Linked DNA regions of Homo sapiens: all the other regions are linked to region 4. Evidence: fine-mapped expression QTL. A gene starts in region 4. Each other region holds a variant in brackets. All regions are shown on one strand. Distances are between the middles of the regions.

Region 1 (7,233 bases), 64 kb before region 4:
ACCTTACAACATCCATATGAAGCAGACACCATTACTGTTCTAATTTTACAGATGAGGGGACTGAGGCAGAGAGAGGTTAAGTGACTTGCTAAGGTTACACAGCAAAAAGTGGCAGTGCCAGGATTTGATTGCAGTTGGTCTGGCCCCAGAGCCCATGCTCATAATCACTATGTTACACTGCCTCCATAAAAACATAACAGTGTCTAACACACAGTAAGTGTTAGCTACTATTTCAGCAAGGATCATATTCAGCAAGGCCTGGCAGCTGCTGGCAAATATTTCCCTATATTCCTTCAGAGAAAGATACATCCCTACTTCCCTTGGTCATCTGTTTTCAGTCTCATAGTTCCCAGTATTAGGAAATTCTCCCTTAAATTGAATCCAGGGATGGCCAATAGATGTCAGCTTGAGCACTGATGCCAATGGATTGGGAGTAACTGACTAATGCATTATGTTAAAAAGCCTCCTAATTGATTAGCAATGTCTGCCAGGGGCATGATGGGTGGGGCAGTGGTAGCTGAAAATTTACTTCCACCTAAATGGTTCCTGCTGCAGCTTTAATCCATCCTGCACAGTTATGTTCTTCAGGCACTGGCCGACCTTGTGCCCGCAGAAATCTGGGTCTTCCTGTTGGAGGACAGAGCCAGCCCCCAGGATACACCCAGACGGCATCAGACAGGCATCTCAGAGCCCCTCTCTCTGGCCACCAGCATTCTTCTTTTGCAGGAAGCAGAGATAACAGGGCTGAGGAGGTGATTCCTGCCCTGGCCAGCTTCCCATTTCCTCCTCCTCCTGCCTTGTGGTTTCAGCCAGCACTGGGCAAAGGTTCAGGGCTCCTCTTCTGAGCTGGGCTCAGAATGTGGGGAAAGCTACCTGGGCCTTTCTTCTTCACTCTGTGGGCAGAGACTGAGTGAAGACTCATCCCCTCCACCTCATGGGCTCCTTCAGCACAGACCCAAAGGGGTCTGGGAACAGTCCCTGGGTCGGGCCAGCACAAGCTCTCAGAATGCAAAATTCCTACTGAGGAAAGGACCCTCAAGTCAGGCAGGGACTCAGAGCTGTCCTGGCATCCTGGCCCTGGGGGTGAGGTGTGTGCAGGAGGCTGCAGCATCCTGCCCCTGGGGGTGAGGTGTGTGCAGGAGGCCCCAAGGCAGGGTGGGGGCAGTTGAGGGCTCTTGTGGCTTCCTCAGAATGAGACAGGGAAAAGCAGCACATTTCCCACAGGTGAAAGCTCTATATGGCAGAGTTTATTTTGGAAGATGGATGATAGGAATTAAGATCTGACACACCAAACGTGCCATAATACATTATCCTTCCTTTCAAGTAATGACATGACAGGTCCTGCCTCACTGTGATGTGTCAGGGGCCATGGGATCCTCAGTGTGGGTGCAAGGGCCTTTCAGGGCACAAATGGAGTCTTCGATAATGGCCTTTACTAAAAATGAAGCAGGCGGCTCCCACAGGTACACATCAAGAGGAAAACAACTATGGAAATGACTTCTCCAAGGAAGGGATGATGATAGGGTTGATTTCAGCAACCTTGAGAAAGATCTGATGCGAGGGCTGGGCCCTTTCAATTCCTATCTCCAGCTCCCCCAGCGCCCTCTGGTCTTTTGTTGGGATATCAAAGGCAGGTGCTCCTGTTCTCTGGATCCATTACTTGAGGGAGGCAGTCTCCTTGGGCTCTTCTCAGGTTCTCTGGAAGTGGCTCCACTCCCTGCCCCACCCTGGGCTTCCTAGCAAGGCCAGGAAGGAGTGCGGCATGATGCCTATAATTTATGTGCTGTCTCCCAGTCTAACCGGCTGACACCGCTCTCTCTTACATAACCATTGCCGCCGCCACCACCACCACCTGCCCAAAGTGGCCAGAATGGAGCTGCCCCACTCAGGGGTGTGGATGTGAGTCCCCTGGAGCAGACCATGCTTGCAGCCAGCTCGATGACCTGTTTTCTGGGACCTTTCAAGGGGCAGAACTGAGGAGAGATGATTTCTTTTCTTCTAATACCTGGTGCTTTTTTTTTTTTTTTTTTTTGACTCCAATAGCTTCTTTGGGGACAAAGGAACTGAGCTAATTAGAGGGAAAGCCACTCTTTCATATTGAAATTTGGGGCCTGCTTTGCCCTGGGGGCAGCCATTGTCTTGCCCTGGAGGGGTGCAGAAGTGGGTGAAAAGCAAAATGGTAGCCTCCTCCCCACAAGAGGCATTCTGGAGGGACCCCTCAGGAGCCTGCATAGGCCCCCAACAAGACAGCAGGGGCCCAGCTTTCAGTGCCCCCACCCAGAACCCCGTTACCAGCAGGTGACACAGGCCTTTCAGATGCACGAGACCCTCGGCTTGAGTACTTACAGGAGGTCCTGAAAGAGAGAGAGAAAATGCCTGGGTCAGTGTCATTGCTGTAGGGGGCGGTGGGGAGGCCGCCTTGGAAGCAGTGTCCAAGGATTCATCAGCGGAGGGGTTTCCATCTGGTCTTCGAAGTTTGTCTTTTCCTGGCCTACTTTCACCAATATAATCTCTTCCCCCTTTATTTCATCTCCATATTTTCATAATTGGATGAGAAATCCAGAGGTCTAGGCCCCAGGCTCAGCCCTGCTGGGGACCTGCCGGTGGCCCTTCTGCCTCAGTTTCCCACCCCACAAAACGGGCTCTACGGGACCTGCCTGAACTTGTGTACAAGGCTGCTTTGCAGAACACGGGACAGTGGGCAGCGAGGCACACTGAGAAAGGCGGAAATAACAGATCCCGTAGAGATGAGGACCGTTAGCATGCCCGTGTCCTCACTGTGCACGTCAGGGAGGGCCAGCAGGCAGGCAGGGGCGGGCGTGGATGGCCACTGTGCACCCTGCCTGAGGCCCATTGGCCCGTCCTGGTTTCTGTTTAGCAGTGAGTTAGGCACTTCACCCCTCCAGGGTCTGCCACCCACAGCCTCTTTCTCAAAGCCCCCTCTCGGGCTCCGGCCCCACCCTCCTCCATGCCTCTCTCTGTTCCTTTCTCTTTCTGGTGTCCACTCCCCACCTCCCTCCCACGGCCGCAGCAGCAGCCCTATCTCATTACTGGCAACAGCCAAGAATGACAAATTCAAGTGTTCCGAGAGGGAGAAAAAAGGAATAGGGGTGGGGAGCGGGAGGGAAGGTTTAGAAAAGCAGTCCCAGAAAGATAGGGAAGGAAAGGCGCTTCTGCGGAACATGAGCCACGAAACCCCACCCTCCCGGTGATTCCCAGCTGGGCCTGGTGTGTCTGCCCGGCCCCTAGTGCCCTGGCCACGTTAACTCAGCTGCGACTCCTGTTGCTTCTTTTATGCTCGGCCAATAAAGGCTCCTATGTTTCCCCGTGCTCCTCCCATTCCCAGAGCCGGCTTCCTTCTCTCCTCCTTTATCTGTCGGCTTCTCTGCCCTGGTCACCATCCAGGAGGAAACAGCCTCTTTCATGCTGGCCTCTGTCAAGCCATCACGTTAAGGAGGAACACAGTGTTTTAGATTAAAAGCAACAGAAAAAGTCAAGAGGTGTAGAGCCTGGGTGAGCAAGCCCCAGGCC[C/T]GGGCCTTGCATGCAGGGCCCAGAACAAGCGGGAGGGAGCACAGAGCAGGGGGAGCATCTGGGAGCCATTAGGCTGAGTGGCAGAGGAATGTCACCCAGAATCTGAAAATATCCCCTGAGCGCAGCCTGCCAGAGGGGCCAGCTTAGCTGGGAAATCTGTGCCTCCTGGCTGGGGGAGATGTCCTCTGCATGAGAAGCAGGCTGGTGACAAAATTCAGCCTGTGGCAATTTTGGGATGCTTCAGCCACATGGAGGGCAGATGCCTTGCGCCTGCCAGGCCTGACGGGGCCCTGGCTCCCACTGTGGCAGGCTCTGGTGATGCCCCCAGTGACACAGGCTAGAGCTCTGAGATGTCCCCAGTGACACAGACTGGAGCTCTGAGGGCAGCCCGGCCTGTTGTTAGCACTCTCGGCTGCATAGGTGTCACCAGATGCAGCCAGGTAGCTGGCACAAGACTCAAGGCTCAGCTGGGTAGCAGGAGGAGCAGTTTGCTGGGTGCACCCCTGGAGGATATAAATTCTACTGAAGATTTTGAGGGTTTTTACATCACCACCACTGCCACCACCATTGTCACTGCATACACCTCTATGGTCCTTATTAGGTGCCAGGCACAATTCGAGGGGTTTTCCATTATGCAATAGGTTCTATCATTCCCGCCTTGCGGATGAAGAAACTGAGGCATGGGAAGGTTGAGCGACTCCCCAGGGCCATGCAGCTAGTAAATGGTAGAGCTCTGGACCCTTCTCTACAGTGCCTCTCTCTCTGTCTCTCATTCAGAAAGCAACCTACCCCCCACCCTGCAATTGCCTGCAGACCAAGTCCTCTCCAGACCTGCCCCTGGGATGCCTGTTATGGTCAGCCTCCAGCCCCCTTCTCTAGACTCAACCCTCTCATCTGTCTTTTACAGGCACCTTTGTCTTATGCAAGGGAATTTGGCTCTTCCAAGCTCAGCCAGGCTGCCACTACCCATACCTGTCCCCTACAGGGATTTCAGAAACAGGAAAATCCTCTTTGTGAGCTAATGCTGTGCCATAGAAGGGGAAGAGCTATACAGGTGCTATAAAAGAAGACTTTCTCTCTCACACACCTTTTTTCCCCTGTTAGGGATGGTCTTCATGAGACCCACTGGAAAATCTTCAGGTGCCTTGGAAAACCCAACTCCCGTCCTGCCCCTGCCAATTTTCATCAAACAGGCCTGCATTGGGACAGCCCTGGGTTTCCAAGCAGATGCTTCCCCTGATGCTGTGTTCAATGCCTGGCAGCTCTAAGATGCTGGGGAGCTGATGGCTTTGCAAAATCTAGCAGTGCCTTGATGTCACTAGTTGCTCTCCCATGTGGGCCACTTGGCTGTGCCCATTACCCTGGCCAGGCACCAAAGGATGGAGTCACTCCAAGGCATTACCAAGTCCCCACAGTACAGATGGAGAGAGAGAGGCCCAGGGAGATTCATGACCATCCAGGGCCATGTTGTGGGCAGGTGATGGCGGTGAGACCGGCATTCAGTCTCCTGACTCCCCATCCTGGGGTCTTCCTAACAGAGCACACCATATCTCATGCTGATCCTGCTGAGGTACTGCCCGTACTACCACATTTTGAGAGAGGAGGAAGACACCTGGACTCCGCCCATGCACCTGCTGCTTCCTCAGGAGGAACCTGTTTCTTGCAGCAGGGAGAACTATGAAGATTGTCCCAGCCCCCTCAGGTGGGCTAAGCAGCCCGCAAGCAGGGCTGTCAGGAGAGGGTCACAACAGCCATCCAGGGTGGGGACATTCTGCCTGAGACCTCCCTGCTGATGTCTGTCACGCACTGCCTCAGCTTCCTGCTGAGGCCACTACCGTTCTCCGCCGGGGTTTGACCCACCTCTTCCGAGCAAGGCGGCCATGCTTCCCCAAAATGGACACATAGGGATGGACCCCCATGAAGAATTCTGGGGTAGCATTCTGGGTCGTGCCCTTTTTCAACCACTTTTTGTATGTTCGTTCATTCAACAAACACTTAACAATGCCTACTGTGTGAGTCACTGTGCTGGGCTGTGGCTCTCTAAAGATGAATAAAGTATACTCATTGTCCTCTGAGGAAGGAAAACTTCATTTTTTTAAGCATTTATTATCTACCAGGCCTGATGCAAAGCTCTGATGATACAGAGATGAATAACTCATTTCCTCCCGCTGAGAAGCCAACAGTTTCCTATGTTAGAAAGCTGGAGAAATTCCAGTGATGAGAACTAAAACAAACATGAGGGTTTAAGGGAGAAAGGTTTGCTGTAGGAGGATTCATTTTTTCATTCCTTCATTCATTCAATCGACATTTACTGAGTGCTCATTATGCGGCAGACATAGACACAGTGCTAAGCATGGTAACTATAACACCGCACTTTGTCTTTATAACAACCTTGTGAAGTTGGCATTATCACCCCTTCCATAGACTTGGAACCTGAGGCTTAGAGGTTAAGCAACCTGCCTAAGGTGGTCACCTTGCTCTTAGATGATGGCATCTGATTCTTAAGGTTAAAAAATTTTAATTTAATTTAATTTAATTTATTATTATTTTTTGAGATAGTATCTCACTCCGTTGCCCAGGCTGGAGTACAGTGGTGCAATCACGGCTCACTACAGCCTCAGCCTCCCTGGGCTCAGGCAATCTTCCCACCTCAGCCTCCCGAGTAGCTGAGACCACACACCACACCTGGCTAATTTCTGTATTTTTTGTAAGGATGGAGTTTCACTATGTTGCCCAGGCTGGTCTCAAACTCCTGAGCTCAAGCTATCTGCCTGCCTCGGGCTCCCAAAGTGCTGGGATTATACACATGAGTCACCATGCCTGGCTTAAGTTGATTGTTTAACTTTTATTTCCATATGGTAGGGCCTGGATTTGAATTTGGTCTCTCTTGCTGCAAAGCCTGTGTTCTCCTGGCTGGAGGTCATGAAGTTCTCAGGGGTGGAAGGGGCGGCTGGGCCCTCAGCCCCTTCTAAAGTGGTCAGGTAAGTCCCCTCCCCCTCGACCCTGGACTTGGTGCCACCCAGTCGCTGGATCCAGTCCTGGTCCTGGACAGGGGGCATCAAGAGTGGCAGGGTGCTCCCAAGTTCAGTGTCATCTGAACCATCTTCTGACCCTGCTTGACCGCTGGGCTCCTAGAAGCTGGGGTCCTAGCCCCCACCCATGCCTCCTGGTGCCTGCAGCTGACCACCTGCCACCAGCTCTGCCACATGCCCGACCCACCCATCTCTGCCAGGACAGGTGCTGTGCATCACGGGCTCCCCTCAGACCTTGGGTGACTAATGATATTGGTTACACTCTGCCTGCTGGAGCAGGGGTTCTCAGCTCGGGGGAATTTGGCTCCCCAGAGGATAGTTGACAATGTCTGGAGACATTTTGATTTCACGACTGGGAAGTTTCTACTGGTCTGTAGTGGGTACGGGCCAGGGATGCTGCTGAAAAGACAATGCACAGAGCCTCCTGCCACAGAGACTCATCTAGTCCACGTGTGAATCGTGCTAAGGATGAGAAACCCCATGCTGGACTAATGGCACCAGACCTGCCTCGGGGCTCCTCCCGTGCCTCAGTCCCTAGGACGCACGCCCTTACCCGTGGCCCAGGCCTCACCGACCTGTGGTTTGCCAACTCTTGGGATCCCATTCTTCTACAGTTTGGCCTGTTCCACCTCCACCCAAGACCTCATTCGGACAAATAGTAATTTGTCTG
Region 2 (7,233 bases), 36 kb before region 4:
GAAAGGGGTTTCCCCTTATGAAAGCTTCAGATCTCACGAGACTTATTCATTACCACGAGAGCAGTATGGGGGAAACCACCCCCATGAGTCAATCATCTCCCACCAGGTCCCTCTCACAACACGTGGGAATTATGGGAGCTACAATTCAAGATGAGATTTGAGTGGGGACACAGTGAAACCATATCAGCTAGTCTGAGCTTTCATAATACCAGTCTGGTTAGGTCATGGTCCTGCTCAATACTTTTTGGTGGCTCCCCACTGCTCTTAGGATAAAGATGAAAGCCTTAACGTGGTCCATAAAGCCCTGCATATTCCAGCTGAATCTCATCTCATACCAGTCTCTGTCCCGAAGCTCCCTGCCCAGGCCACACTGCTCCTGCCTCAGTTCCTCATCCTCCCTTCCCACTGCAGGGTCTCTGCCCTTGCTGTTCCCTTGCCTGGAACACTTTCCCTGCCCTTTACCTGGTCAATTCCTACTCCCTTGCCAGATCTCTCTGCTCAAGGACGCTTGAGGATTTTTTTTCTAGTTTCTCATGAAACCTTGCATTGCCTTTTGGTGGAGCTGATCGCTATTGCAATTTTATATTTGCTGGGGCAATTGGTGGAGGCTGCCTCCCTGACTGAACCGTAAGTCATGTCTTGCTCACCCTCGGGTTACCAGCACCTAGCAAAGGCATGGCATGGAGTGAGTGCTCAGTAATATGTGTTGAATGATACATGAATGATGCTGTGATTTTGTGCATGGCAATTCCATTCTCTGAGCCTGACACCTTAAATGATTATTGAAGAGCATTTATTCCGTGCCAGGTGCTGGGAAGACACAGAGCTAACTGTCCAGAGGGGAGACAGATGTGAAACTAGTCCCTGATGATGCAGTGGGATAGGTTTATGCTTGGAGGCTGGGCTGGCTCTAAGGAAGCTTTCGGCAGTGGCAGGTGACCTGAAATTGGGGAGGTGGGGGCAGGGGTGGGAATCAGGGATGGCTATCTAGGAGTTTACAACTAAGGCCAAATCGGAAGGGTAAGGGAGAGTTAACAGGCAAAGGTGGAGATGAGGGGGTTCCTGGCAGAGGGAAGAGCAGGGGCAGAGGCCTGGTGATGAGAGCCCTGCTCCTAAGCCCCAGGCTGGCTGTGCTGCAGGGAGTCCAGGGAAGTGGGGCAGGGGGGCAGTGGGGAGGGATGGGGCCCGATGGGGTGTGCTGGACATGGTCGTGAAGGCACTGGCGCCACTGCAGGGTTTCAGGCGGAGGGGTGACAGAGGAGTGTCCTCCTGAGTGACAGAAAAGGACTAGATGGGGCAGAGCCTGGGGCCCCTTCCAGCTCTGGCGCCCGGGGTTCTGAGAGCCAGGGGGCAGGGGAACGCTGGGTTGGATTAGGATGGTTCCCGACTCTGTTGCCAGCAGAAGCCTCAAGAGACCAGTTTTCCTCCCTGACGTCAACTTAAAGGTCACACAGATCCCAGGTTTCCTCTCAGGGGCCTTTGAGGGCCCCTCATTTTGTTCTTTTACCCAGATCCCTCAGGAATCCCATGACATTCCCAGCCTGGACCACCTCTCAGGGTAATGAGTCCCCTGAGGTCCTAAGTTGCTGTGAGAAGCAGGACTTCCTTTAATTTGTCCTAAACTTACCTCACTCAAGTTTCAAAGGGGGCCCCATCATCCCAGTATTTCAGGATTTAGTGAGCAAGGAAATGCACTGTGAAGCTGCTGAGGTGGGGAGGGGAACTCAGGACATCTGACTCCAGAGGGCCCCCCTCAGCCAGGCAGACAGGCCACAGGCTCTGCCTCCTCCATCCAGCCCCTCTTGCTCCTAAGCTGGTGAAGTGGAAGGGGAACCAGCAATTCAACAAACTGCTCACTCTAGCAAGTGGACTCCACGCTGGGGGACACGCAACTTAAAGGACCCCGAGTCACCGAGTCACCGGGCTCCTTCGATGCCGCTGTCTGTCCCTCCAGCCCTGTCCCCATCTCTCCAGGAAACCTGCCCCTGACCCCCAGCACCTGGGCTAAGCATTCTGCAGCTCCAGCAGCTTCACAGCCCAGCCCAGTCAACAGCTCAAGTCAAGAAGCCTTCAGCTCTGCCTGGTTTCTCTCCATCTCTCACCCGACAGCCAGCCCATCAGCAAGGCCTGCTAGCGTCACCTCTAGCACATACCCAAAATCTGCACACTCTCCCCATTTCCTCTGTCACCACTGCCTCTCACCTGGACACCGCAATTGTCCAGGACACCTATTGGCTCCTCTCCACTCTGCCTTTGTAATCCATTCTCTGCCGGTGCCAAGAGGACTGGAAAATGTAGCCCAGAGCCGGTGGCTCCCCCTCCTAAAACCTTCCTGTGGCTTCCTGGCTCATTGAGGGTGAAATGTACAAATACCACAGGCCAGAGTCACACGAGGCGCCACAGGACTGGCCCGCGCCCTCCCTGAGCTCTCTCTCTGCTCTCTCCCTGTCACTCATTTCACCTGGCCACACTCTGACCTTTCTCTTCTTCAGACACACCAAGCTCATTCCGACCTCAGGGATTTTGCACCGGCTTTTGCTGCTAACCAGCATGCTCATTCCCCAACCTCTGATTTAATTCTTTAATCAATTTATCTCATGGACACTCTTCTAGTGCTTTATGCTGTGACAAGTTCAGGCACAGCACTTCTCATGCTCAGGATCATCTGTTAGCTCTGCGTGGTGGGCTCCCCTTGTCATTCAGATGTCACCTTCTCACAGATAACACTGCCCCCCACAATGCCCTATCGAAAATATCCCCTGGATCACATGGTCAGCCTTAAATATATACAGTTTTTAATTGTCAATTATACCTCAGTAAAGTGGGCCGTGGGGGGAATCCTTTAAAATTGTCTTAATTTATTTTCTTCATAACAATCAGTGGATATTTTCTTGTTAATTTCCTTATGTGCTTATTTTGTTGATTTCTCTCATTACACTGGAAGCAGGAAGAGGTCAAGACCTCTGTCAGGTTGGTCCTCATATCACTAGAGCTCGGTGCCACTGCACATGGCAAGCGCTTCACAAGTATTTGTTGAACGAACGAA[C/T]GAACGAATGAATGAATGAATGGGTCACCTCTCCCCTGGAGGCTTCCAAGACCATCGCATTCTCCAAATACCATAGCTGACACATCCAGATTGCAGGATATAACTGGTGAAATATTTCCTGTGGACACTGTTCAGAGGCCCAATCAGGGGATGGGTTTCTAGAGACAGGGTCAGGTCTTGTCCATTATTGTGTAAATGCAAAAATAACAACTGGCACGTGTGTAGCAAATAGCAATCCACTTCGCACTTTCAATGGGGCTTCACACGCAGGAACTCACTGGCTTCGCCAAGCTACTCAGTGAGGCTGTCTCAGGCTCATTTTACAAAATGGGAGCTGAGGCCCAGAGACTCAGGGCCACACAGTGTGCACAGAAGCCACGCCTCACCCCATTTCCCAAGGTGGATCTGAACCCTTTGTACAAAGGCCTGTATATACCTGCATGCCTGGCGCTCTGTATACAGCAGGGGCTTAGTGGAGGTAGCAGCATTTGCTGCAGTCAAAAAGCAGCTTAGAGGAGCCCCTGTCTGAATAAATTCCTCTGGCAAGGGCCGGTCCCCAAGGTAGTGGTGTTTCAGAGGCTCAGGAGGAAGGGCAATGTGGGTGGTCAAGAGAGTCCTGGCCTGCGGTTCAGGAGAGCTGAGTACCAGCAGCTCAATACCACTGATTAAACTCCTCCCCATGCCAGGTACTGTACCACGTGCTTTACATACATCTCCTTCATCTCAGGACAGCATGGAGGTAGAGGTTGTCATGATCCCTATCTTAGAGGTAAGAAAGCTGCAGCTCAGAGATGTCAAGTCACTTGCCCATTGTAACACAGTTGGATCCCAGAACTCAGCCAGCAGATAATCCTGCCACTTTGTTAGTCTAGGTGTTTCCAGCATTGGCTGGGTGACCCTAGAAGAACCCCTTGCCTTCTCTCGGCCTTAGGCTCTGTCTCTAAAGCCCAGGCTCCTACCAGATCCTGTCTAGGCCTGTATAGCTTTGACACAAGTGGGACCGGGAAGGCACAAGGCTGTGGCTGCTGCTGTCTCCTGTGGCCCCTTGAGGAGGGGGCTGCCTGGATGCCTTGGAGCAGGCGCAGACCTTGCCCTGCCCAAGGCACTGTGGGTGGAATGTCCAGGGGTGACCAACCCACAGGGCCCTGGCCTCCTGTGTTCACTGGGTGACAAGACCAGGATGGCCACAGCACTGGAGAAGGGCTGGGAGATCTTGGAGCTTCCCAAGATTGAGAAAGTGGCTCGTCACATCACAGGGGGCTTTTAAGGTGGGCAAATGCTCTGAGGAACATCCAGCCCCACTACAGTGCCACTAAAATGAACATCAGAAATTGGCCCCAGCTTCAGCTTCCTTTGGATAATGAAATCTGTCTTCTTCTCTGCGTTTATTTATTTATTTGGCAGGATCGCCGTTCCACGGGAACATGATCCCACTGCCTTAAGGGGCCACTCCACAAGGGGGACAACATGGAGGATGATGAAGCAGGAGGGTCAAGGCCCACTTCCAGCTCCCCAGGGATTCTGCCACCCTCCACAGAAGTGAGGAGAAGAGGCAGTGGGAAAATGTACCAGGGTAAGCGCAGAAGAGGCTGGATCTGACTTCATCCCTAGAAATAGTTGTGTGGTGGGTGGTGGCTTCAGGGTCCAATCAGTTTCTGTGGCAGCATCTTTTGCTGTCTTTTAATGAACAGCAGGGGTGTCACCTGTCAGGAAGGACAGGCTGTCTAATGGACAGATGAATCCGGAACCAGGTGCCCAGCTTGGCTGTAGCTCTTGGCCTCAGAAGGCGTCAGGAGTCTGTGGCATTGGCTGACACACCAGTGCCTCTGAGTGCCAATGAGCAAAGAATGATACAGCTGGAGCTGATGTGGTCAAGCATTTGGAACTAGAACCGTACAGAGACCCACCAATCAGAACCGACACCAGCCAGGATCATTGGTAAGGTCCCCCATGGGATGCTGATGGGGCCTCATTGTCCAGATTCCCGAACACCCCGAGGGAAAGTAAGTTCTTTGTTGAGAAGGACTCACATCCAGGTTCTAAGCCTATAGGAAAATGAAGAGGACATTCAGGCTGTCAAAGCTCTTGGGCCCTGGGCACCCTGGAGCCGGAGCCCTGGCATGGAGACCCCTCCATGACCACAAACAGGCAGGTCTCGGGAACACACGGCACAGCTGCCCAGTACCTGCTGCCCCTGGGAGGTTGGGACCCGCCCCACCCTCCCTCCGGCCTGTCATGGTATGCCAGGTCACCCCGTGACAGCTCACATAACTACATGGGAAGCTGGCATCCACTTATACCCCCACCGCCTGCTGGGCATCTTTCTGTGGCAGGCATTTCCTCCCCAGTTGGGGTTTAAAGAGGAAGGCAGGCACTGAGGGAGCCTCTGCCCATACTTGGTCCTCATTCTAGCTCCAGGAGGCTCCCCAGGGTCTCCATGAGGCTGAGGAGCCAGCCTGCCAAGGATGTAGCTCTGTGTGCCCCAGGTTTGCCCATCTCCAGCTCTTGTCAGCCACACACCTTGCCTACTGGAGACATTCCAACAGTGCCCTGCCTGGTGTACCTGCCACACAGACAGATGGCAAAGGCTGGAGGGGTGGGAGGAAGTGAGTTTGTGAAGTGAGCTGGAAAGAGAATGAGCAGCTGGAGCTCTGACCCTCCCCTCCCTCCCCTGCTTATATGTGCATAGCCAGCTCCCCTTTGCATGGTAGGAGGGCCTCTCACCAGGAAGCCGAGTCAGCTGAGCTCTGGGGTCCCTTCTGAGTCCCAGATCTGATGTCTCAGGGCCAAATGCCAGCTGCACAAGCCACCAACAGTGTGGTTCTAGACCTGTGTCCCTGCCTTGGCCCCGCCTTGATTGGGGCCGGCCTCCCAGGGCTGGAATCCTGGAGGATGCGGCCCTGGGACTGTAGCCCACACTGGGCACCGCCTAGCCCCACCGGAGCCCTGGGTCTCTGCAGCAGCCACTGAGTTACCCGTGTGTTTCCCCTTCCTGGACTGTGGGCTCTTCTCTGTCTCCTGAGGATGGGGCATGGCACAGAACCAGTGCTCAAAAACTGTTTGGTGGGGAGTGAGGGAGTGAGAGAGAGAGATAGCTAGAGGTTGGCAGGGGGAGCTTCTGATGCTGCTCTGGTTTGCCCAGACTCAGACTACTTAAATTCTGGCTTCAACACACACTAGCTCTGTGGCCTTGGCCCCGTTACAGAACTTCTTTGGGCCCCAGTCTTCTATGGAAATGGAGATAATAATAGTACCTGCCACATAAAGTAATTATGAGGATCAAATGAGACAATGCAATAAAGTGCTTATCACAGTGCCAGGCGCAGAGTAAGCCCTTAATAGATGTTGTTGTTATCATTACTAATTAATGTCCTCCAGCCTTATCTGACTCCATGCTCCCTGGACAAGCATCACGGCCACTGCCGAGTCCTCGGTTTCCCACTGTGCTCCAGGGTAGCACTTGGGTCCCTGGGGGGCATTTGCCTTCTGATGTTTCAGAGCTTATTTCCAGTCCCAACCCTGCCACTGCCTAACCCTGTATCCTCGAGCAAAGAATTCTGAGCTTCAGGGTCCTCATCAGGAGAATAGGGCAGTGTGAGTCGTAACCTGGAGAGCTGGTGGGAGGGTGCAGTGAAGAGGGCCAGGTGTGTGGGGACAAGAGTGCCACTGCCAGCAGAGGCCACCCAAGTCGCCTTAGTGGCTGAACAGGAACTTGCCAGGGAGTAACAGGGGAGAGGCTGGCTGGGTTATGACAAGAGTGGGGGTAGTCATCGAGGGAGTGGGCAGCCTGGGTGGGTCCAGGAGGAAGAGCCAGGGACTGCATCCATGGGTCTGGCATGTCCCACCTTCTAGTCTCTTATAACTGCCCAAGCAGAGGTCGCGGGCTCTTCCCACTTGCTGCTCCTTTCCTCCAAAGGAGCATCTGGCATTCCTTTAGCGTCACTGTGGCAGAACCTTCTCCTTCAGGGCAGAGCAGGTGGTGGCAAGATCAAGGGACCCTCCACTGGGTCTAGGGCAGGGAGCTCATCTGCCCCCAGCAGCCTGGGACAAGCTGCACAGCACCCATGTGTGCTGCGGGCAGGATTGTGAGTCCTGGGTGAAGGGGCACAGGGCCCTGGGCTCTGGGCATGTCCTGGGGCAGAAAGTCTCCCACCTCAGTGCTTCTAGCCAGCTCTCCAGCAAGATGC
Region 3 (7,233 bases), 90 kb before region 4:
CATATAGCACATGGCTGGAGAGACACATCAGCTGTTCCCACCAGACGCACCACCATCCCAAGCTCCCCTCTCTGACTGCTGAGTGCAGAGGGCAGTGGGTGCTCCTGCTCCCCCATGATCTGTTAGTAACTGGAGACCCCAGGGAGATGAGGCTGAGCTGGGCGCTGTGCCCCAGGGATGGATCAAAGTGCCCTGCTAAATTTTAGGGGTTCACTTACCCGGTGTGGGTACTCTCCACACTGACCCTGGGAAGGAGAGGGAAGGGAAAGGTGGTGTTAGGCACTTGTTGGGGGTACCTGTTTCTCAGGGCACCCCCAGCACTTCAGGACATGCCACACATGTCACCGCTCACCAGCCCTCCTGCTCTAGTTTTGGTCTGAGCCCTCTGAGGCAGAAGAACTAAGTCCCTCCCTTGCCCCTGGCTAGCAGCAGGGAAGAAACTTCCATGGCCTGCCTGGAAGTGGCCCCAGGGAGCCTAGGGGTGGGGCTTCGCCTTATACCACTTGCCATAATGGCAGAGTCGGGAGTTATGCCCCATGCCTGGCGAAAGGTTGACCCTCTAGGCAGGCCCACCAGACAGCCCTGAACAGGAGCCACCGGATGGGAGCAGCCGGCACCATGGGGGTCCCAAGCCACCTTCTCTGAGCTGGGAGCGCCAGGCCCCTGTACCAGCGGCCCAAGGGCAAGCACAGCAGTGTCTCTATCAGAAATTCAACAAGACAGAGAGGGCAGGAGGCCAGGCCAGTGGTTTACAGGTTGATGCCTCTCAGAATCCCAGAGGCTCATGGAGGTGTCAGGGAACACCATGGAGTGACAGCTGGGAGGGGCCCAGAAAGAGGCTGAAGAGGGCCAGGCTCCAGGAGGACCCCTGGAAAGGATGTCACCCGGACCAGCCTCCAGGAGGACCCCTCACTCCAAGAAAAGGATGTCCCCTGGAGCGGTGTCAACCGAATCTATTATGCGGCACCTCGGGGGCTTTCCTGGTTCTGTCAATTAAAACTGAAGTTTGAAAATAACCATAATTGACCCCTTTCTACCAACTGGGAGGCCATTTCCTGAGATGGAGACTCTAGGAAACCTCCACTGCTCTTACCTTTTCTCCTTTTTGTCCCTGGGGTCCCTACAAAGAGACGGAGATGAGAGAGTTAGAAACCAAAGCTAAGGTCACAGCCACCGGAAGCTTCTCTGCTGGGAAATAGATGGATGAGGTACCAACCGGCTGTCCTGGGGGACCCGTCAGACCCTGTGGGAAGCAAACACACACAGGTCAGTGGGCAGACAGAAGACAGGCAATCAGGGACACCTGCCTGGGTGGGGATTGGGGCTGAATCCCGAAGGCTGGGCTCTACCAGCCATGGCCAGGTCTTCCCATGCCCACCACATTCAAGATGTCTTATTCACAGAGTCTCAGCTGCTTCACCCCCCAGTGGGCAGGACTAGGGCTGTGATGAAGAACAGATGGCATCTTTCATCCATTCCTCCAACCACCAGCATCTCATGGGCCAGCTATGGAGGGGCTCTACCTAGAGGTCAGGGAGTTTTCTGCTCCATGGGACCCCCTACCTCACATGCATCAAGCCTCTGGGAGACACTAGCACATTCCACCTCCTGCCTCCCAGGCTGCAGTGAAGCCCACTGAACCAGAAGAACTTCTGGCCTGGGGGTGCTGGGCCGGTGCCTCAGACAATGGGGGCCTTAGAGAAACCTTCAGCAAAAGAGAGAAAGCAGGAAGTTGGCAACTGAAGCCATGTTCTGGACTTCTCCAAGGAATATGAGGGGTCTTGAAGTTTCCTTCAAGGTTGTCTTGTCCATGCAGGGCTAGGAAAGGAGCTGGGGTTGGGAGGGACCCTTGCTGTCTGGGGAGGGCCCCGCATGCTCTGGCTCTCTTAGGAGGCTGCACCAAGGCTGGTGGAGGGAAGAGGAGAAAACAAATGCCTTATGGGCTGAGGATCCACCCTGAGGCTGGCTCTTCAGGTATGTGTCTGTGAGGGAGATGCTTGTGTCCACTCCAGCTCCCGAGTGAGGTGACAGAGACAAGGCCCCATGGCTCAGTGAAAGGTGGCACTGGGACAGGAGCCCAGGTTTGTCTGACGGCCAAGGTCCAGCTGTTTCCACTGCCAAATGCTCAGAACTGGGCCAGACCTTGGGAGTCAGGGCTTCTAGACTTGGCTAGAGCCATAAGCAGGTCCCTTTGAGCCACCAGTCTCTTTGGGGCCTGAAGCACTGCAGATCCCCAAGGGTGGGTCCATCTGGGAGGTGGCCGCAGCATGCTGTGATGTGCCAGAGCCTTGTTCCTGCTCCCCGCTTGCCAACAGGGCCACCTCCAAACTGGGAAACTCCCAAGAGCATCACTGGAAGGGAGAAGTGGCCTTTGGGACCATCCATGTGGCACTCCCAGCCCATGTGGCTGGCCAAGTGTTTATTGGTCTTTTATTGTTTTATTGAGACAGGGTCTCGCTCTGTTGTCCAGAATGGAGTACAGTGGTGTGATCTCCGCTCACTGCAGCCTCTGCCTCCTGGGTTCAGGCAGTCCTCCCACCTCTGCCTCACAAATAGCTAGGTCTACAGGCACACACTACCGTGCTTGGCTAACTCTTGCATTTTTTTGTAGAGACAGGGTTTTGCCATGTTGCCCAGGCTGCTCTCAAACTCCCAGACTCAAGCAATCTGCCCGTGCTGGCCTCCCAGAGTTCTGGGATTACAGGTGTGAGCCACCGCGCTCGGCCTGGCAGAGTGCTTAGAATGAAGTTCTGCAGCACATGATTCATCCGGCAGGGAACCCGGGCCCAGACCACAGGTGACCAGGTCATCCTCTGTCAGGACAGAGATATAAGTGTGATGGGGGAGGGGCAGGCGGAGTTTCAGGACTGCAGAGACTTGGACAATTGAAACCAGACATCCCAAACGGTGGCCCAGGGGACAATCGTGGTCTTCATAGGGATTTTGTTTGTCCCACATGGTTTTATTTCAACTAGTTGCCAATACTTAAGAGAGCAAGCAGAGTGCAAATAAAAATTTGGATTTCAAGTTTCTCTTAATTATGTCGAGGTCCAACAACACATGGTACCAGTTATCTTCAGCCAGGCAGCACCTGCCCCTTTAAGGGCCATGGCCACCGGTGATGTGCTTAGCACTTGCCAGCAGGCCTGTGCTAACCGCCACTGAGGCATAGCTAAGGCGCCTGTCTGCTTCTCGGGTGCCAAGCATGTTCTGAGTGCCTGGCGCTCCTCACTCGACAGCCCTGTGGGTGGTGGGTGAGATTTGGACTCAGTCCAGGCCTTGCTTTACAGCCCTTATGTCATTCCTGAGTCTCAGACCCCCAATCTTGTCCACCCCCCAACTACACTATTATACAACTGTGTCCTCCCAACACTTCAACACCTTATTTCAGGTTCTTGGGAATAATGTGAAGTGGGGGGGTGGGGCAGAGGTGACTCCCTTTTGAGAGGTGAGGACACAGGTTAAACAATGAGGGTGAGTGCCAGTGCCCCAGTGGGACGCCAGTGGAGGGGACAGCATCTGGGGCAGGAGACAGACAGATGAAGAGCAGGGCAAGGTAATGATGCTGGACAGCGGTGGGCAACTAACAGCTCGGGTACCCATGCCAAGCCAAACAGGAATCAGATGCTCTGTGGCCTGCTGGATTTGATGAGGCAGACAGGGGATCTATCCCACTGATGTGGGCTCA[C/T]GAGAGAGGGGGTGGGCCTGCCTTTTCTGTTGAGTTAGCTCTGATCCCTGGACAGGCGGTCAAGTGTGTGGGGCAGAGGGACGGTGTGGCAGAATGAGGGCAGGAAAAGCGGCCCCATGGAAGGGTCCCTTTCCTCCAGGACAAAGTGCTGGCTGCTGAGAGGAGGTGTGATCGAGGGGTAAGACTCCACTGCATGGGTCTGAATCTCAGCTGTTGTATTTAGGAGCTTTGTGGCCTCAGGCAATGTACTTAGCCACTCTGTGCCTCAATTTCCCCTCTCATGAAGTGGGGATGATAAGCTGTTATGAGGATGACAGAGTGCTGCCTAGAGGATGACCATTATTATTACTTCTGGGGGGCCATGGGCTGCCTTACGGTAGCATAAGGCTGCCAGAGAGGGAAAGAAGCTCAGGCTGAAGGGATGAGCACCCCAAGCCCTTTATGCCTCTATAACAATGTGGCATGGCAGTTTCTTCCTGCCTCGGTCTCCACTACTCCATGCATGTGCACAGCATGCCTGGGAATGGGGTAGGGGCGGGGGGAAATGCATTTGCAGCGGAGGCAGCTGTGATGGAGAGGAAACCTTGCTGGGGAACCTGGATTCCAGCGCCAGCTCTTCTGCCACTGCCTCCAGGGCCTTCTGCCTCCAGTGCCCTTCCTCCGGTTCTGCAGACATGTCAAGGATTTTCCTACCTCAGGACCTTTGCACGTGCTATTCTCCCATGTCCAGAAAGCACATTCCCATCCCCCTTTCTATTTTCTCTCGGTTGAATGCTCATTCTTCAGGCACTAGTTCAAAAGTCTCTTTCTCAGAAAAGCCGTCTCCGACCTTTGGCCTGGGTGAGGTTTTTGTTATACCAAGATTTCCAGGGCACTAAGGATTATCTTTTTATAGCACTCATTGCAAAGCAACTTGTTAGTTATGTGAGTGATCATTTAAAAGGATGTCTCCCTACTAGACTGTGAGCTACAGATGGCAAGAACAGTCTCTCTCTTGCTCCCGTCTGTATCCCTAGCACCTGAAGCAGTGCCCAGCACATTTTAGATACTCCATAAAAAATGCATTAAAAGAAGGAAGGTGGCAGGAAGGCTGACAAAGAGTGAGGGAAACAGAAAGGGAGGAAGGTAATAAAACCTTAATAAAAAAAGGGAGGGAAGGAATTTGAGAACTGTGTTTCGATCTTGTTTTGGACATTCAGCTGTGTGACTTCAGGCAAGTTAGTTAGACTCTCTGAGCCTTGGTTTCCACACCTGTCAAAGGGGATTCTAGCAAGACCTGGAGCACAGAGTTACGCTGAGGATTGAGACAGTCATGCAAAGTGCTTAGCCCAGTGCCAACCACGTGGCAAACCCTCAATAAATATTAGTTGGATCTGAGTCAAGAGGACAGGTTGGGGCCCAGAGGGAGCTGGCAAGTTAGGAAGAGCTAGGCTGGAGCCCAGGCCTTGCAGCCAACACTCCACCATCCCCCTTTCCACCCACATGATTACCTGCCTCCCTCCATGCCCTGGCAGTGCCCCAGTCATGGGTCAAGGGTTGTCTTCACACCAGCGCTTGGAGCAAGGCATGAGCCAGGCCCCCACTGAACAGGGACAGGGGGAGCCTGCTGCGTTGCTTTCACCACCCTGCACAAATTCCTGGCCCACCAACCTGTGGAGCAGGAGGTGGTCCCTCACAGTAGGTGCGACCTGGATCTTAGGAGGCAGAAATGCACCCCAGCCCAGGGCTGTTTTGTTTGTCTGTCTGTTTGTTTGTTTTTTTAAAGCAGGGATTTATTGAAAACCAAAATACACTCCACAGTGTGGGAGCAGGGGCCCATTAGCTCTTAATGGCCCATCAGTCCCTGCTGAGATCTGGCCCACCGTGAGAGTGCGCAGCCCCTCATTCCCTTCTGGAAGGGATGGTCTGTGGAGACAGAAAATTTATTTCCAAAGCTCTGCAGAAGGTAGGGGCCAGGAGAAAGCTGGGCCAAATGTTGTCTCTCCACCTTTTTGGGGCCTGAGGCACTCCAGGTACCCTGGGCAGATCCATCTGGGTGGTGGCCGCGGGATGCTGTGACATGGAAGAGAAGACCTTGCTCCTGCTCCTGACTTGCCAAGTGGCCCAACCTCCAAACAGAAACTCCCAGGAAGGGAGAGGGGAAGGGGCCTTTGGGATGATGCATGTGGCACCCCCAGCTGAGATGATCCACTGGGCACCACCAGCCCCAGTGGGGCAGGAACCCCTGGAGTCCTGGGGTGGCTCAGGGCACAGCCAGCACCCGGAAGGGGTTATGAGGCCTTGAGGGACCTCAGGCTCAGTAGAAATGGTGTCTCCTAGAGAAAGTGTCCCCTGTGAGTGCAGATGAAACCTTGTCTCCCAAGGCCCATGCGAGTGTGGTTTGAGAGCAGTAAGCTGGACACCGACCTCTGTGTGCTACCAGCCAGGTGTGCACTCTCTCTGGATCTCCCATCCTCATGCTTCAGATGGAGAAGCCCCTGCCCATTTCTCCTCCCTGCATATTGATGTGAGGATCCAGGGCATGTGGTTTACACAGCTGGGGAGTGACCAGCATGGACAGCCATTCCTGTTGTCCCTGTGGGACCCACTTTGCAGTGCTTGGCTGTGCCTGTGAGGCTGGGCCAACCCCCACCCATCTCGGGAAGGCAGGAAAGCTGGGCTCTTACCATGTCGCCCTTTGGTCCTGGGTGGCCCTGGAAGGAGAAGAGGGTGAGTACCAGGTGCACTGTTCGCAGCCCAGAAGTTCCACCCTCTGTCCTTCATGCTCCTCCCTGCCCCCTGTGCTCCTCCCTGCCCCCCGTGCTCCTCCCTGTCCCCTGTGCTCCATCTGCACCTTCTGGCTTGTGCACTCCTTCACCCAGTCCCTAAGGCAAGGTCATTTGCTCACTGCCCCTCGCTGGGCCTCACTAGCAGCTGCCTGCCCTTCAGAGAGCAGGGGTGGGGGTAGTCTCCCTAGACCCCAACGCTCATGCCATTCACATGTCCAGGGTAGCTTCGGGGGATGCCTGGTCCCGTGACATGAGTGGAAATGATTGCTGGCACCCCTGGGCTGCACTTAGCTCGCTGGCCTGCAGTTGGGGAGTAACTGGGTGGTGCTAGGGTCCCTCAACTGAGAGAGGCGAGTGGCGGGGCCAGGCATGGCTGTGAGTGGGGCTGCATTCCGTCCACCCTGAGGGCTTTGGATGGGTCATGCTCCCTTCCAGCTGACTTGCTCCTAGGACTGGGGAGGGGACTCCTTTCTCCCATGAACATTTGTGTCAGGGAACCAAGTCCAAAGGATTGAAATGAACGAAGAGAGGAGCTATGGTGGGAAGCAGTCTCCACGTGGACTTGAGCACACGTGTGGGGTCTCAATCGGGGAGGGAGACCCTGACCTCGAGGACAGGGCCATGGGAGACACAGGTGCTGGGGAGCAGGGGCAAGCGTGTGCATGAGTGGCCAGGCTCTTCAGACCAGCTATTTGACCTCCGTACCCTCCACTCTCCTCACTGCCTCCTGATCTCACCCCCACCCCACCCAGAATCACCCATTCTAGGGATGGCTCT
Region 4 (7,056 bases):
CCTAAGGGCCCTCCCTGAGCACTCATCTGGTCTTGTGCATGGCCTTTGGTGATGGCACCTTTTAGTGAAGTCTCCGATCTGCCTCCAATCCCAGGAGGGAGGCAGGGCCTAGATTTAATGGAAGATGAACCTGAAGTGCAGGGGTGTAGCATGGCTTGCCTAAGGCCACAAGACTGGCAAAGCCCAGCTAGAATCCTGGTCTTGGCCTCCAAACTCACCAGATGCCTGTGTGTGCCCCATGAGGACAGGGACCTTCTGCACCTCCATTTTGGAGAATTGTTTTGTAACAAAACCATTTCCCCTCTCTTGTCTCTGAATTCTCCTGTCCTGTGGCAGGTTTTTGCCTGTCCCAATTTTCTGCCTTACCCATTGCTCTCCTCTGCCCTTTGCTCAGACCTTTGCTCAGACCTGGGAGAACACACCTACACAGGGAAAGGCCCAGGATGGTCCCCTCAAGTTGCTTTGCAGGCCCAGAAGCTGCTCGTAGCACAGCGCTGGCCAATAGAACTTTCTGCGAGGATGTACAAGTTCTTTCTCTCTACTGTCCAGCTCCATAGTCCCTAGCTGCAGTGTCCACTGAGCACTTGAAACCAGGCTGTTGCAACAGACAAGCTAAAATTTAAATTTTATTTAATTTTAGTTAGTTTAAATATAATGAGTTGCATATGACTAGCAGTTACTGTATTGGACAGCCCAACCCTAGGGTGTCCCTCCAGGAGCACAGACAAGGCCCCCACAGATAAGGCCACTCACGCCATCCACCTGTGGGACAGCTCCCTTCCTCTGGCTCCAGCATCTTCCCCTATTGACCTCAGCCACCATTTCCAGTCACCCCTCTCTGACCCTACTTTTACCCCCATTCATTGTCCCCTCTGGCCTGCAGCAGCCTTCTGTTTTTGGCCTTACTGCTTTGCCAGCCGTAAGCACTCACTCTAGGGGCATAACTGCCTTCCTGAAAACCCTTCAATGGCTCCCCATTACTCTTATTTAGATCTAACTTTCTCTAAGGCCCCTCTTGACCTGGGCTGCCCGTCTCTCTCCAGCCACATCTCCTACTTCCTCACACTCCCAGTCCTCCGGGGTCCTGGACTTCCCCCAGTTCTCCCAATTCCCTCTGGCCCCCAGCCTCAAAGGCTGTTCCGTTTGTCCCCTTAGAACAAGGCTTCACACTCGCCCGCTTTTGCCTGGCAAACTCCTATTCATCCTTCAGCTCTTCATTTGAAAATCATTTCCCTAAGGAAGCCTGCCATGACTGCCACCACCATCAGACAATGTTGCATGTAATGCATTCCCCAGGCCCCTCTCTTTTTTCACTATTGTAGCTTTTTTTTTTTTTTTTTTTTTTTTTTTTTTTTTGCACACGACATGGTCACTGCCCATTTTCTTCTTTGTGCACTACTTCCCTGTATGTAAGTTTAGGAGGGCAAAAGTGTCTCCCACAATGCCTGACCCGCAGCAGGCTCTCAGTAAACATTTTCTGAATGAATGAATGAGAATAGGCCAAAAAAAAAAAAAGGTGGCAGGATACAGCGCAAAGAACATTGTATACAGGGCCAGGAGGCTGAGGTTCTAGTCCTGGGCCTCGCCATGTGACTCTGGGCTCAACTTCCCCATCTGAAAAATGGGGTTCAGTTCAGATGCTCTCTGGGATAACTTTCATATCTAGCAGTTGAAAAGATTGTATTCAGTAGGGTAAATATGGAGCTGCAGCTTGGAGGGAAGGAGTGAGCATGTCGGATACAATAGTTAGCCCCAAGGCCCCTAGAGTATGCGACTTGGCATGTCTAAGTCTGAAGCAGTGGAAGCAAGAAGCTAGAAAAGGCCAGGGCATGGTCAGGCCAGCAGGAAGGTCTGGGAAGGGGAAAGCATGGAGAGAGGGGCTGTGCTAAACCCTGAAAATCAGATGCTTATCCCTCAGCAGCCAGGACCCCCGAGATACCTGGAGGAGCTCTCACTGCCCTGACACCTTCTTCACCACCCAGCCAGTCTGGGCTCATTCTGCCTGAGCCCAGAGATGCTGCACCTCCACCCCAGGCCCAGGGAACCATGGACGGCCCGATGGAGTTCTCCGGATTCCCTGGAGCCTGGCAGGGCGTGGGAATGAGCTGACAGCAGCAGTCATGGGTGCACCACTAGCACCAGTACGCTTGCCCTGTGACCGCTCTCTCTGCTCTGGCCCTGCAATCTCCTCCTTGGCCACCCTGGAGAACTGCTCCAGCAGGTGCCAGCCTGGCAGGGGCAGCTGAGAAGAGCCTGGCTATAGGGAATAGGTACATCTTGCCAAAATGCTCACAGCACCCCACCCACCACAGTTAGAGCTGTGCTCCAGTGTTTGCTACATCAGCACTGTTTCGCATGTTCAGAGGGGTTGGAGCGTTTGTCCCAAGCTTCCAAGTAGCAGAGTGGGGATAAAAACCCAGGGTTGCTGGCCTCTACCACCGTGATCTTTACTGCTGCACACTCCCTCCAGCTAAGTAAGATATCCTCTCCCATTTCTTCCCCATGGAAACCTTCCATGGCCAGGACCTTCCATGGCCAGGACCTGCTCCAGGACCTCTTCCCAGACTGCTGCGGCCCCCACCTGCCTGTCCTCCTCTCTATCTGGGCCCTGAATCCCCTGTGCTGTCCAGATTCCCACAGATCATCAAGCCTCACCCTGTCAAGGCCCAGCCTTTCCTCTGGTGGCACAAAGAGGCTGCATGTCCCTCCTTCCTGGGGAGGGGACAGCCTTTTCCTGTATTCCGAAGATTGCCATAGCTACCTGACACGCTAGTAGTGTTTAATCTACTTGGATCAAAAAAATTTGGAGAATGGAAGAAAGCATCCTTTCTCCAGAAAAATAAGAAACCTGGTTTAGGAAAAAGAAGGTGTGGACTAATTTGTGGCCAAGGACAGCAGAGCCAGGCGACCCACACTTGGACCCTAGCGGCCTGGGCCAGTGAGCAGAGACCAGGGCACCACCCCCTGCAAGAACTGTCCCCTCTCCCCGCACCCCCCGGGTCCTTAAGGGGTGGAGGGGGAGGGCCATGGGGGCTCAGTAAGCCTCGGCCTGGGCCTCTGGGCGCGCTTGCCGCTGCGCGGGCGCGGGGCGGCTGTCACACCACCCTGGCCGGGTCCCGAAAGGGAGGAGTGGAGCTTGCCCGCCTCCGCGAGCCTCCGCGCGCCCAGCCTTCCTCCACCTGCCCGGCGTGCCCAGGGCGCTCCCAGCGCTGGAAGCCGGGGGCGCTTGCCCGAGGCGGGAGTCGCTGGGTCATGCTCTTGCCCACCAGGTCCTCCGAATCCCTGGTAGGGCAGCGTCTGTCCGTGTCCCCGACCCCTCCCGCAGGCAACTCGCGCGAACCTGGGGCTCGCAGAGAGCGAGCGCCCGCGGACACCGGCTGAACAGTCTGGAGGCTGCGCGAGGGGGCGCCGCGGGGAGGGATAAAAGCCAGCAACAAAGAGCACAGACCTCGTCCAGCAGTTGATTGACTCGTCCCAAAATAGCCGTCTCCATTTGCTGCTCCCCGCGCTCCGCTTCCAGGCGCAGCACCCGGGCCTGCAGCTCGGCCGTCCGAAAGTGGGCGAGCAGGCTGAGTGCCAGCGAGCAGAGGGCCAGCGTCAGCAGCCCGCACGACCCTGGACTCGGCAGCCGTGCGCCGCGCTCCGCCCGCGCCGCCACCAGAGCCACCGTCCCGGGCGCGCCCAACTCCCCAGGGCCGCGGGCACCGGTGGCTGCCGCTTTGTGGGTGCGCTCCGCTACCATCCTCTCGCGTCTTGAGAACCAATAAATAAATAAATAGAATAAATAAAGGCGACAGCCGCTGCCAAAAGGCTCTATCCAAACTGCGGGGCAGGGGGAAAGGGCTTGTATCGCTGGAAAACGTCCCTTTCCGCTGCTCCCGGCAAAGAGGACGGAAAAATTAGCAGTAGGAGAGGAAGTGCCGAAAAAGCACAACCAGCGGTAATTGGGGTACACCTAGGTGAGAAAAAAGTTATTTCGAAGAACGTTCCAAGTCCAGGAAAGTTAGGGGAATCTGACCGGCTCTCCTTCTCTCCGCCCAGTCTTTCCCTTCAAGTGTCTGCAGAGCAGTTGGTGCCGCGCTGTCAGTCCTTCTGGGCGCCTCGTGTCTCCCGGGCCAGTCAGTTTCAGTCCCCGGGCGAAGGGGCGCACACGGAGGGCCCCATGGGCAGAGGTGGGTCGTGGCGGCTGGCGAGGAGCGCAGGGGCCGATTCCGGCGCCTCTGTAACTTGACACACTCCCTGCGGCGGCACGGATCGGATGAGCAATCCGTGCTACTTCCCAAACTAATCTCTCCCTCCCCCCTCCCTCCTCCTCCTCCTCCTCGTCACTCCTCCTCCACCTCCCGCGGGGCCGACGGCTTGGATTTGTTTATTTATGCAAACTCGCCCAGGGTGGGGGGCGTGGTGAGCAGGTCCGGCGGCCCCAGCCCGCCGGCCCGGGAGCCCCTCTGCCGCGCTCCCCGTCCTCTTTGAAGTGACACTTGGGGTTATTTATAGGCAGGAAGGGGGTGTGGAGTGGAGCTGGCGCTGCACTTCCCTCTCTTTCTCCGGATTCACACCGAGGGCTCGTTTGGCCTTCCACGGAGGCGGTGAGGCGGGCACCACCTTCCATGGACGCGTTGGGGCAGGCACCACTCCACCTTTCCCAGCCCTTGAGACCCTCCAGGAACTCGACTGAGTTATTGTCAGGGCTTGTGGGTGGATCTCCACGTCCTGATCAGGACTACCTGATCCCTTCAGCCACCGCTCCTCTACTCCCAAGCCCCCAACCTCTTTCCCCTTCCTTCTCCCCCGACAACCGACTCCCCGGGGGCTCTGTACCTCCTGAGATCTGCAGCTCCTCCAGTGCCGGGCGGCCAACCACATCTTTACTCTGGGGTGAAAAGTCAGCCCTCCAGGGGGCAGCAGAGCTGGCAGCCCTTCCTCTCAGGACCAAGACCTGAGGTAGTATGAGACACTGAAAACGGAGGAGATCTTATTCCAGGTATCTGAGAGGTGGCTCATTGGGGCCGCCTGCCAGTCCTGACATCTCCCCTTCTTGCCTGCCATTAATCTGAGACCCATGCCATCTATCCCTGTGTGGTGAGACCAGCCTGCCTCAATCATCCCAGTCATCAAAGGTGAGCAATTCCTACACAAACTCAGGTTCCATCCCTGCGGGAGGCTTAGGGCTAACCAGGCTCTCTCCTGTTGTCATTTCCTATATTCCACTAGAGAAAAACTGGTGGCCTGAAGGGCATTTGGTAGTTTTCTCTCTTCTCTTGTCACCTCCTCCACCCCCCACATTAAGTAGCATTTGTATCCCAAGAGACTTTATCTCCTTGTGCCTGTTGACATTCCTGTGAATGAGGTGGTGGGACTGAGTTTTTGGGAGAAAGCCTGTCTTCCTGGAACAGCGGGCAGAGGAGAGTAGACTGGGTTTTCAAATATGCAGTGGAGGTGGGGGCAGCAGTGGTGCTGGGATTCCATTTCAAAATAACAAGGCATGCCAGTACAAACTTCCCATTTTCTATATTGACCTGATGGAACTTGATATATAATACAGTGTCACTGCACTTCTAATAAAGTGTGGCACACTTAATAGTGCATATTGGACTTGTAACATAGTAAGTACTGAGATCATATGTAATAAAGGTAACATTGACTGCTGGGCCAGTCAGCCACTATGGAGGACAACAGGAATAGAAGGCGATGCTGCTGAAAGAGCCCGTGGCCAGGAGCTCTGGGTTCCAGTTCCAGTTCTAGGATTCTCCTGATGGCTTCAGTGGCAAGGGCACTCTGTTTTCTCCATCCCTGTGATGGGATGTCCCAGTCCACTCTACAGAGGAATGAATCCTTGGGAGACTTGGATGGTATTGAAGAACACCAGGGGGCGTTGGAGAGTTTCTGCACTGGGAGGTACAGGCCAGGAAATTCAGGGACTTTGGACTTCCCCCACTCCCCTCCCAGGCTAGTCTGAATGGAGGAACTGAGGTGGGGAGTTAGTTTCATTCCCTCCTTATTCTGCAAACTGATCTTTTCCCTTTCAGGACTTTGGAGGCCCTCAGGAATGCTCAGGCAGTGAAATCTAAACAGTTTGGAGCTGGAGCATCCTTGTGATTGGGAACTGAAAGAGGAGGGTGTTGCGCTAGCCTGACCTGGCCCCAGCATTGCAAACCCTGGAGCTTCCAGGGGGACTCTGGAGTCAGAGAAACCTGGGTGTAAATCTCCCTTTTGTCAATGTGGAAGCTGCTGAACATCTCGGAGGCTCAGTTTTCTCATTTGTAAGATGGGCTGATAATAAAAGTATCTACCCGTCTGGAAGGACTGAATGAGGTAATGTATGTAAAGCAGTGAACACAGTGCTGGCACAGGGCAGGCACTCAATAAAGGGCATCGGCTCCTTCTTTGGAATTCATGGCTGCTAGGGCCATCTCAGACACAGCTAGCTCTGGGCTCCCAGTTGTGAAACAGGAAGAAGTTTCCATCCCAGAGAAAGCAAATGGATCACAGTTAACCTCCATTTTTTCCCTACCTGACAGCTGAGAGTAGCAGCTTGTGAGCAGCAGGAGTTAGCTTGTGTTGAGGGGCCTGATCCCCAGGTATCCCTCTTCTTCTTCCCACACTGCTTAGAATTCTTGCCCTGGGAGATTTTTCTTTCAGGTAGAGCATTGTCTACCCCAGGCACAAGTTACAGCCTCATGTGGCTTATCTTGAACCCTTCTTTCTTCATAGGTGGGGGCCAGGACCTGGGGACACTGAGGTGAAAAGAGTGCCTTCCAGGAGCTTTAAAAACAGTTGATTAAGGAAGACAAGTCATGTTCACATAAAACCGCCACAAAAGGCAGAATAGCGAAAATCCACAAAACATGTAAAGACCACAAAAGGTGCTTCAGGGCTCCCAGAAGAAAGGGGGGGGATTCAGATGCCTCAAGAAAAACACCAGGAAATAGATTTTCTTGTTTGCAGTAAGAAGAAAGAGGGCCTCCAATGCTAACCCAAAGACTTTGATTTTAAACTGTGGTCTTGGTTACACACCTAGACAAAAATGAAGAAAAAATGCCCCAGGCATACAGC

Evidence for each region. PIP is the estimated chance that this variant, and not a neighbour inherited with it, causes the effect.
Region 1: its variant is fine-mapped to the expression of COL13A1 in spleen (GTEx, PIP above 0.99).
Region 2: its variant is fine-mapped to the expression of COL13A1 in whole blood (TOPMed, PIP above 0.99).
Region 3: its variant is fine-mapped to the expression of COL13A1 in cerebellum (GTEx, PIP 0.94).

The regions. Positions count from the first base shown.
Region 1 is chr10:69,862,919-69,870,151 of GRCh38, reverse strand. It overlaps COL13A1 (collagen type XIII alpha 1 chain), which reads right to left. Exons shown (of 41, transcript NM_001368882.1): 3 at 2,347-2,354. Among named protein-coding and RNA genes, the nearest start is that of COL13A1, 65 kb to the right of the region's middle. RefSeq lists enhancers at 1,328-2,311, 2,312-3,295. The variant C/T (reference allele first, on the strand shown) is at 3,532.
Region 2 is chr10:69,835,000-69,842,232 of GRCh38, reverse strand. The region is part of intron 2 of COL13A1 (collagen type XIII alpha 1 chain); the gene reads right to left. Among named protein-coding and RNA genes, the nearest start is that of COL13A1, 37 kb to the right of the region's middle. The variant C/T (reference allele first, on the strand shown) is at 3,047.
Region 3 is chr10:69,888,562-69,895,794 of GRCh38, reverse strand. It overlaps COL13A1 (collagen type XIII alpha 1 chain), which reads right to left. Exons shown (of 41, transcript NM_001368882.1): 10 at 6,355-6,381; 11 at 1,217-1,243; 12 at 1,094-1,120; 13 at 219-245. Among named protein-coding and RNA genes, the nearest start is that of COL13A1, 90 kb to the right of the region's middle. The variant C/T (reference allele first, on the strand shown) is at 3,689.
Region 4 is chr10:69,799,110-69,806,165 of GRCh38, reverse strand. It overlaps COL13A1 (collagen type XIII alpha 1 chain), which reads right to left and starts at 4,260. Exons shown (of 41, transcript NM_001368882.1): 1 at 3,449-4,260. The coding sequence starts at 3,742. LOC124902444 (a long non-coding RNA gene) reads left to right here and starts at 4,395. Exons shown (of 2, transcript XR_007062179.1): 1 at 4,395-5,120; 2 at 6,030-6,303.